3 linked regions of the Homo sapiens genome follow. The protein of the gene in region 2 purifies or fractionates together with the protein of the main gene of each other region. This does not show direct contact. Each region holds a gene or a part of one and is shown on either strand. Other genes may lie near its edges.

Region 1 (3,500 bases), on a different chromosome or scaffold from region 2:
AGAACTTCTTACAGAGGCAGAGTCCATAGGCAAGTGATGAAATCTTGTAGGTTAAGTAAGAGAGATGAAGCTTTAGAATGCTGGTTTTGAGGTGCTGTAAGTCATCTAGGTTGAGCTATCATGGTGACAGTTGGAAATGGGGAAGGACCTTTAGAGATGAGAGCTGGGGATATCTGAAGCCATGATTTTAGATGAAATTGGCAGGGAAAGTGTTGAAAGAAGAGGGCCAGGGGCAGACACTGGGGAAAGCCTGCATTGAGAAAATGGTAGAAGGAGCCAGCCTGCTTAAGTAAAAAAGTGGTTAAAGAGGTTCTACCTCTTTGAGATACCACAGTGCCACAGGAGATACAGTATATATATAGTCAAATATATACTTGTACTTAAAACTTTCATTTTTGGCCACTGCATAATTATTGTTATAAGCACGCAATGTTTATGCTGTAATCAGATCTACTGAGGAATTAATGAAATTCATTTCCTTTGCTTCACAGGTCAAGAACTGTGGAATCTTTCAGATGATATTCTGATACTTCTGGACCAAGTATGTATGGTTGTCCTTGATCTTACTCTTAAGTTGCAATCTTAAGGTTAATTGAATATGTAACTTCATGTTACTGTTTTTGATATGTAAAGGAGTGATTTTTTAAAAGTGACAAGCCTATGAGCATTTATAGAACAACTAATATGTTCTTTTTCATATGTTAAAAGAACAAACACGGTAATTCTAGCAAAAAATGATTATGATGGCATGTCAATCCAGAGTGTAGGTGCAAAAAAAGAAAAACACCTTTCTTTGGGGCCACAAAGCAGCCCTTTTTTGAGGGCATTGATTGGAACCCATATATAAATAGAAACTAGCTTTTTCACATATATCTAAACTGCTAATTTACAGTGATAGCCTCTTTTTTCTTTGCATAAAAATCTTTTACATATTTGGGAGTTTTGTTTTCAATTATTATTTAGAGTATTATACTAAAGAACAGAAATCAGTTTAATGCAAAGAATACTTGATAGATGAAAAAGATGTTTATGGCTTTTTTCTTTTTTTGAGACAGGGTCTCACTCCTTTTGCCCAGGCTGGAGTGAAGTGGTACAATCGCAGCTCACTGTACCCTCAACTTTCTGGGCTCAGGTGATTCTCCGACCTCAGCCTCCTGAGTAGCTGAGATTACAGGCTTGCATCATGGTGCCTGGCTAATTTTTGTGTATTCTGTAGAGACGGGGTTTCATCATGTTGCCCAGGATGGTCTCAAACTCCTGAGCTCCAGCAATCTGTCCACCTTGGCCTCCCAAAGTGCTGGGATTACAGGCATGAGCCACCATGCCTGGCTGTTTATTGCTTCAGTTGTTACCTTCCACCTAAACCTCAAGAAAATAATTTAACCTCTTTTCACTCTAATTCTTTTCAAAGAGATAGCTGATAATCCTAGCCAAAGAATGTCCATGGCTTTATCAGTACATACTGAACACACGTTCATTTTTTAAAATCATTATTATTTTTCAGGTCATTATGAAATTGTTTCTAAATGCCTTTTGATTTCCGGTTGATCACTTTATTACTACCGTACTGCATCAAACTTTTAAAGTAGACATCTCTTGTGATTTGTATGAATTGATAGGAGACATTAGTAACTTCCAGGGATAAAAGAAATTATCATCAATAAAATGATGCTTTGAACAGAACTTGAAAAATGATGAAATTCTAGTCATATGAAAAAAGTTTAAAATAAATATAGTGTTTTTAAAGAGCAATGTATGTATTACTAGAATAAATTAACCAAAATTAATGCTTCCTTTAAATGAACAAACCTTTTCCTGCCAATGTAAAATGCCAATTATTGCCAAGATGAAAACACAGACACCGATGAGAGCTATAGCAGTAAGCAGAACAATATTACTTGGTGTAAGATACAGTTTGGCACTCCAACTGTAGATAAAAACAGAACAAATTAAAATTACAAATTTTATTTAAAAATAACAAAGTTATATTGAGACCCCAAAGCAAAATAGCTTATTAATTAAACAGTCAATGTATTCATTAAACCATTCATTCATCAGTCCATTCATTATAAATAAAACAAAAACAATTAAAAATCAGATAGTGCTGAGAATATTGATGATTCTGCAGTTTATATTTTACCTAGACAACTGAAATAGAATTTTTGATGAGATATTTCAATATTTTTCATTTTCCAAGTTTGATCCTATGAGAATTATTTTTAGGTAAACATATCCAAGGGTACTTTGGATAATCATAGACATCTTTTTTACATCTTGATTTACCTGCTTAATTTGAAAACCTGAACTCTAAAGCAAGGTAGTCACATGATCCTAGAAGCCTTCTGTATCATCTTATTTTTGACCTGTGTCACATATATAATGTGACCAAGTAAAACATAAATGTTGATGGCTTGTGCAAAACTTCTATAATTTTTATATCATGTTGGAGTGTTTACATTACTACAATGACTTTTAGGTTCAGATCACTTACAAAATCATCTTTAGTCCCTCACTGTTAATGGCAATATACAGACTAGAGGTCTTTAGTAAACAGAACTAGTTCTTTCCTTCTAAAACAGTCCATGTAATATAGCATTTGCACACCCTGAAAGCCTAAAACTAAGGACTGTATCACCAAGTGTGAAGGTTGTTATATACACATAACTTTTTGTTCTTCCTAGAAATAGGTAATGGCTATATTTTTATTTTAAAAGTTTAATAAAGGTAAGACTGTTCTGGTAAATAGCAAGTAGCTATTGATTTATTCTGGGATAATTAAAATTTATTGATCCATAAGTTAGCTTCTAGTCAATAACCTCAAAATACACCTCAAAAACTAAAATCAATTTGGTTTTTATTATGTACATAAATTTGAAAAGAACATTTCTTTGGAAAGAGTAAGAGAAACATGAAAAATGTTGAGATTACGGAAAAAAGCTATGGTATAATTTTCTGGAAATTCAGAAGAGTAAGTAAACCTTAAGAAAACAAATACTGTTAATTAGTTGAAAGCTACTCTTAGTGTTATACTCATACTTAAGAAAACAGTTCTTTTATGAGATGTTTTTGGTAGTTCTACTTTTAAAATAGATTTTTAACAAATCAGGAATGTAAGTGTTTTGGTAAAAAAAAAAAAAAAAAAAGACAAAAGTCAATCCTCAGTTTTCTCCTCAGAGGCAGTCACTCTTACCAGTTTCCTGCATATCCTTTCAGAGATATTTTATACATGTATGAACATGTATGTATAGATGGCTTCTTTTTAAATCACAATGGCTGCTTATTATACATACTCTTCTACATTTTGCTGTTGCTTCTTTTGTTTGTTGTTGTTGTTATTGTTTTTTGCTTACCACTCCATCTTAAGAGACTGTTCTATGTCCGTGGCAGTGAAAAAAAATCATGCTACTGAGCTGTATAGAAGTACCGTACTTTATATAGTTTCCTACTCATGGTCCAGATTTTCTAGTTTTACTGTAAATTTCATCTATAGAAAACTAACA
Region 2 (3,500 bases):
GTTAGCCAGGATGGTCTCGATCTCCTGACCTCATGATCCACCCGCCTCGGCCTCCCAAAGTGCTGGGATTACAGGCGTGAGCCACCGCGCCCGGCCGAGGGTATCGTTTTTATTGGTTGACAGGAAAATTCAAGATTGTCTTTGATTAGTGCTTAGTTTTCTTAGCCCTTTGCAGAGAGTCACATAATTCTAATGTTTTTCTTTTATATCAAAAGAATGTTCTGAAGTCTTAATTTTGTGGGGGAAAATAATGCATGTCCTAGTTTTTCTTTACCTTTCTCTTCTTGGCAAACTATTTGTGTCTTGGATTGAGTACATCTCGTTTCTTAGGTTTTTTCCTACTATGTGACATTTGTAAGGTTCTTTCTTTTTCTAATGTGGGAAAAAAAATAACCTTAATTTAGGTCAGTGTTAAAGATCAAGATCTTGGTTTTAGCTAGCATGGTGGTTCACGCCTGTAATCCCACCTCTTCAGGAGGCTGAGGCAGGAGGATCCCTTGAGACCAGGAGTTTGAGACCAGCCTGGGTGACTCTGTCTCTACCAAAAAGAAAAAAAAGTAGCCAGATGTGTGGCGTACACCTGTAGTCCCAGCTACTCGAGAAGCTCTGATAGGAGGATTGCTTAAGTCCAGGGGTATGAGGCTGCAGTGAGATATAATTGTGTCACTGCACCCTAGCCTGGGAGACAGAATGAGACTTTTTCTCTCTCTCTCTCAAAAAAAAAAAAAGATTTTGTTTTTTCTCAGTGTTACTTGATAACTATAAACGACAGACGTTCATACAAGAGATCTTTCACCTTTACTACTTAGGAATCAAAAATTATTTTTGAAAAGATAAGAATCATTGGTAACTGCAGCAGGGGACACCAGATCTTTGGTGTTAAAAGACCTGAATAACATTCCTGTAACTATCTGTTATTTACTTGGGCCAGTTACAATCGCCATTATCTTCCAATTAAAATTAAGATTTAAAAGACTTCTCTTATCAGAGATAGGATCCCCCTCTGTTGCCCAGTCTGGAGTAAAAATCCACCTGTAACTGCTGCTTATAGAGTGTGTATCCAGGGCAACTTGAATCTATGTTCCTGGGTTGCAATCCTAAAGCTTGGCTCAAATAAGCTCTACTTATATTATTTTTTAAAACAAGACTTTCCTTATCTATCTGACTCAAATTCTAAGAAAATAATTTTATAACTTTTTTTCAAACTCTAAAGCAGCATAGTGAACACGTATTTGTTGACATCACCATTATTATAATTATTGGGTTGTTAACAATAACTAAGCACCGATGCTGTGTGCCTACTACAGTGTCTTTTGCATACTGTGTGCCTGATAGTATTTAAGAGTGAAAATGGCCGGGTGCGGTGGCTCATGCCTGTAATCCCAACACTTTGGGAGGCCAAGGCAGGCATCTCACGAAGTCAGGAGTTCGAGACCAGCCTGACCAACATGGTGAAACCCCGTCTCTACTAAAAATACAAAAATTAGCCAGGTGGGGTGGCATGGGCCTGTAATCGCAGCTACTCGGGAGGCTGAGGCAGGAGAATCGCTTGAACCCATGAGGCAGAGGTTGCAGTGAGCCAAGATCGTGCCACTGCACTCCAGTCTGGGTGACAGAGCGAGACTCTGTCTCAAAAAATAATAATGATAATTAATAAATAAAGAGTGAACATGAATTTTAAAACATGCTCGGTAGTGTCTGCTTACAGGACATATCTCTAAAAATAGATGACTGACTGGTGAATGGGAGAACAAATGTTAATGAGGTTCAAATAAAAATTTAAATATTTTAGCATTTTAACCCAGACAATAAGGCTTTCATCATATAGGAACTCTTTATTGAAATATTTCAAGAAAAAAGGGATTATCATTTAGAAGACTGATTAGTCTTATTTATTATGACTGAAATGTGCAAACAGAATCATTGTTTCATGAACAGAAAACAGCAGAGTTTTTGACTGTCAATGATGTTCGAATAGAAAATGGATCACTAAGGAGATAGGAGATTCTGTTATCGACAGTCTTCAAAAGTAAGTTGATGGCCCTGGAATGAATGGAGTACAGGGGATTCTCTAATTTGATGACTTGTTGAACTACATTATAGTCAAGATTTTTCTCCAGTCATGAGTTGGAAGATTCTACAATCTGGTGGTATTATAGAATGGATTGGCCACTTGTGCATCTGAATTTGTTATGAATGTGTAAGAAAAAAGCAATTGAGAAGATACCTTGAAAATAAATGAGAACCTCCTTTGTAACCTGACTTTGTCAGTCTTCTTAAAGATAACATTGAGTTGATGTGTTTTTAAATAAGCTGCTAAGAGTAATATGTGTTTTTCTGAACCAATATTGTGGTATTTACATTTAAGGAATTGTTATAGATTTATTTATTTCAAGTTTCCAAAGGTATATACCTAAACAAGAGATCTAATCATACACATCTTCAAAGCTCATTTTCTTGTATCTTTGTGATATAATTTGATAAAATAACAATTTTAAACAACTTGAATCTTGGATATTAGTCTCATGAGTTAGATGGGCTGTTATACATATGATTATTTCATAAACTCTGAAAGTGTGAATGTTATTTTACTATACTACCAATTTGGGATGTTAAACTACATCTTGAGCATTTGTTGTTATAGGGAAAGCTCACTAACTACTTTTCATGGAGATCAGGCTGGTTTATTTTATTCTCTTATTACCTGTGACCATTTCATTTAAACAAATAAAATATTTCTCTGATGGAAAAACTACCAACTTCTACTCTCACAAAAGTCATTCACTCATGTGGACTGACCAACTGTTAAACATCCTGGCAGTCATGGAATTTGCTAAGTTATGGCTAAATGAGGTTCTTTAATCCACCTGCAATACAGATCATTAATAATAAGATAGGCTATCTGAGGTTTTGAGAGTTCAGTATAGAATTTTGAAGCATCAGGAAAAAAAACTACCAAATTATTGTCTTATTCTTATTTTATGGTCTGTGAAAGCCTCTTTTTTTTTTTTTTTTTTTTTTTTTTTTTTGTCAGAGTCTTGCTCTGTCTCCCAGGCTGGAATGCAGTGGTGTGATCTCTGCTCACTGCAACTTCCTCCTCCTGGGTTCAAGCGATTCTCCTGCCTCAGCCTCCCAAGTAGCTGGGATTACAGGTGCATGCCACCATGCCTAGCTAATTTTCATACTTTTAGTAGAGATGGGGTTTTACCATGATGGCCAGGCTGGTCTCAAACTCCTGACCTTAAGTGATCCACCCGCCTCAGCCTCTCAAAGGGCTGGGATTACAGGCATGAGCCACTGAGCCCGGCCTGAAAGGCATTCATTTCTGATCAGGCTTCTGTTGAGGTGGCAATTGTCAAAGGGGAAGGAGTAAAATCTCAGAGGAGAAACATTGGAAGATACCTATATCTTTGCTTGAGAATGAAAATCTAAATGGAACTTCAAAGAACTGTTTTGTTGTTTGTTTTTTAGAAAAAAAAGTCCCAAAAAAGAAAAGAGAG
Region 3 (3,500 bases), on a different chromosome or scaffold from region 2:
CTGTATATATTGGATTTAAAGCCAGTTCCTGAGTATTCGTTAGCTAGTTATCCAATCTGTGGATCATTTAAACCTCAATCTTATTTCCTCTTGGTAAGAGTCAAGGAAAGAAGAGAGAATGTAATGTTGAGGTTGAAGGAACCATAATTCCTTTGGGGTAAAAATGTAAAAGATCGTTTCTCACAGACCCTATATAACATAATCCATAATTCATTTTATGGCTCCTATTAATCACCTTATTATTTTAAGTATGTTTTAAAGGACTGATTTGAGTAATGGATCCTCTTTAACTGAACTTCTTTTTAGTTCTGATACAACACCCCTTTTAAATGGATCAAGCCAAGACAGAATGTTTGAGACAATGGCGATTGAGATTGAACAACTTTTGGCAAGGGTAAGTGCTTTCTGTTAAATGGCTATTTTGCAAATAACTGTATACTTGTTACGTAGGATCCTGGATTATATTGAGACAGACATGTTTATTGAAATTATCCATTCCATTCAATATGTGTACCTCCCCACACCACTTGAATTTTGATGACAGCCATTCTCAGGTGATATGATGTTATTTTGGTCTTTATGGATTATGTGGGGGAATGCTGAATTCTTACTTGCTCTCTTGTTTGTTTTTTGTTTTGTTTTGTTTTGTTTTGTTTTGCTGTCAACCAAAAGGGCATATAGGCAAATAATTTGCTTTTAGCTGTTTATAGTGCTTAGTAAAATATTTTGATTGTTTTTTTTTTCTTTATTTCTAGCTTACAGGGGTAAATGATAAAATGGCAGAATATACCAACAGTGCAGGTGTCCCCTCCTTGAATGCAGCCCTGATGCATACATTACAGCGGCATAGAGACATATTGCAGGTAATATATTGGGCTCGAGATGTTTTCATTATCACAGGAGTTTGGGTTTTTTTTTTTTTAATCCCTGCATTGGATATGTGCACATATATTTAAAAGGACAAAGAGAAAAATCTGAGAAAATAAATGCCATGCTAAAGGGACTTGTTTTACTTTTTTTTGGGGTCACCATTATAAAATTCTGAAAATATCTAATAGCTCTTGCTATTTCTTGGCGAAGTTGAGTAATATTCATCACTGGGTACATATACTTCCACTATGGGAGACCTAGCTAGCTAGCTGTAACAGTGAAATAGCCAATGGTCATGTATAGACAATAACGTGGTGGGTAAGCGTGTACTTTCAGCTAGCTTTGAAGATAATATGGAGGGGGAATTATTTACTATACTTAGTATATTGTTTAAGAAAACAGTAAATGTGTATGCACCAATAAAACTAAATAAACTTTTAAAGATTTAAATGGAGGATATGTTAAAAATATGGTAGTACAAATAGGAAGGCAATTTTTTTTTTTTTTTTGAGATAGGGTTTCTCTGTCACTCAGGCTGGAGTGCAGTAGTACAGTCACAGCTCACTGCAGCCTCAACCTCCCAAGCTCAAACAAGCCTCCTACCTCAGCGTCCTGAGCATCTGGGACCACAAGCACATGCCACCACGCCTGGCTAATTTTTTAAAAGCTTTTGCAGAGACAGGTCCTTGCCATGTTTCCCAGGCTGGTCTCTAACTCCTGTGTTCACGAGGTTTTGCTATATTGCCCAGGCTGGTCTCTTAACTCCTGTGTTCACAGGTTTTTGCTATGTTGCCCAGGCTGTTCTCTTAACTCCTGTGTATGGGCAATCCACCCCCTCAGCCTTCCAAAGTGCTAGAATTATAGGCATGAGCCGCTGTACCCAGCCACAAATATTTTTAATATTGAGAAAAGTCAGCAACTATTTCTAATTTTAAAAACTGTTTTTAAAAGTAGGAATAGATGGCCGGGCGCAGTGGCTCGTGCCTGTAATCCCAGCACTTTGGGAGGCCAAGGCAGGTGGATCACCTGAGGTCAGGAGTTGGAGACCAGCCTGGCCAACATGGCGAAACCCTGTCTCTACTAAAAGTATAAAAATAAGCTGGGCATAGTGGTGGGCGCCTGTAATCCCAGCTACTTGTGAGGCTGAGGCAGGAGAAGCTTGAACCCAGGAGGCGGAGGTTGCAGTGAGCTGAGATTGCACCACTGCACTCCAGCCTAGGCTACAAGACTGAGACTCCATCTAAAAAAAAAAAAAAAAAAAAAGTAGGAATAGAAAGATACTTTAATACAAAAATGTATTATCGGGTTAAAAGCTAGCATTGTGTTTAAAGAGAAAGCAATAAAAACATTCCCATTGTATGAAACAAGACAAGGATACCCATGATCGCTACAAATGTATAACGTTGTTTTTTAAGTTCTTGATGGTGCAATTAGACAGTAAAAAGAAATGAAATGTATGCTGGGCATGGTGGCTCACACCTCTTATCCAAGCACTTTGGAGGTCTGAGGTGGGCGGATCATTTGAGGTCAGGAGTTGGAGACCAGCCTGGCCAGCAGGGTGAAACCCCTTCTCTACTAAAAATACAAAAATTAGCGGGGCGTGGTGGTGGGTGCCTGTTATCCCAGCTACTTGGGAGGCTGAGGCAGGAGAATAGCTTGAACATTGAACCTGGGAGGTGGAGGTTGCAGTGAGCCGAGATTGCACCACTGCACTCCAGCCTGGGCAACAGAGTGACTGTTTCAAAAAAAAAAAAAAAGATGTAAATATTGGAAAGGAAGAGGCAAAATTTCTGTGAGGTAGCAGGATAAAATTATATGTCTAGTACACGCAAGAAAATTACCTGATAAAAAGTTAGAAACAATTAAATTCAGTAAGATGGTAGATCACAAAATGAATACATAAAAGCAAATAGTTTTCCTATTATGATAGGAAATAAATGATAACCTGTTAGAAAATACAATGGAAGAAACTATAAAGCATTTATATATGAATTAAATAAGAAATGTGTAGGACTTGTATGTGCAGAATTCTACTGAGGGACATAGAACAAGATTTAAGTAAAGGAAAGAATCATTCTGTTTTTGGATAGGAAGACTTTCGTCTAAATTGCATGACATCCCAGTGGAAACAGCAGGGTTGTATCGTTGTTTGTTTAATTAAAAACAAATGACATAATGACACCAAAGTTCATTTGGAATCATAGACATACAAGAACAACCAAGAAAAACAACCTGAAAATGAAGATAAGTGGTAGAGGGTTCCTAGTTCTACCAGATCTTAAAACCTGTTAAAAAGCTGGAATAGTTAAGACAGTTTGATACTAGAGAAAAAAAATAAATAAATAAAAACAATTAAACAGAGTTTATATGTAGACCCAATTATGTTTGGAAATTTTTAGTTTCTGATAAAGATGTTGTTTAAAATCAGTGGGGCAAAGAGAAATTATAAAATAAATGGAACTATAACCATTGCTTAATTATTCAGAGATTTTAAAAAAACAATTCTATCTCAATCCTCACATCCAGAACAAATTCCAAATGGATCCAAGAAGGATAGAAAAAGAAACCATAAAGCAGAGGTGAAATTTGTAAACTTTGGAGCAGAAAGGACTTTCTAAATAAGACTTGAT

What was found. Proteins that work in one complex are often made in the same cells at the same time.
Region 1: the proteins of PCDHGA6 (region 2) and ITFG1 purify together in Homo sapiens (affinity purification with mass spectrometry; one large-scale study listed by BioGRID and IntAct). This does not show direct contact.
Region 3: the proteins of PCDHGA6 (region 2) and GOSR1 purify together in Homo sapiens (affinity purification with mass spectrometry; one large-scale study listed by BioGRID and IntAct). This does not show direct contact.

Annotation. Positions count from the first base shown.
Region 1 is NC_000016.10:47,157,064-47,160,563, forward strand, and holds part of ITFG1 (T-cell immunomodulatory protein isoform 1 precursor), read right to left. Parts: intron 1,928-3,500; coding exon 1,810-1,927; intron 542-1,809; exon of another isoform or gene 492-541; intron 1-491. UniProt on the Homo sapiens protein: Modulator of T-cell function. Has a protective effect in graft versus host disease model.
Region 2 is NC_000005.10:141,376,891-141,380,390, forward strand, and holds part of PCDHGA6 (protocadherin gamma-A6 isoform 1 precursor), read left to right. Parts: exon of another isoform or gene 1-2,755; intron 2,756-3,500. UniProt on the Homo sapiens protein: Potential calcium-dependent cell-adhesion protein. May be involved in the establishment and maintenance of specific neuronal connections in the brain.
Region 3 is NC_000017.11:30,483,908-30,487,407, forward strand, and holds part of GOSR1 (Golgi SNAP receptor complex member 1), read left to right. Parts: intron 1-306; coding exon 307-394; intron 395-755; coding exon 756-863; intron 864-3,500. UniProt on the Homo sapiens protein: Involved in transport from the ER to the Golgi apparatus as well as in intra-Golgi transport. It belongs to a super-family of proteins called t-SNAREs or soluble NSF (N-ethylmaleimide-sensitive factor) attachment protein receptor.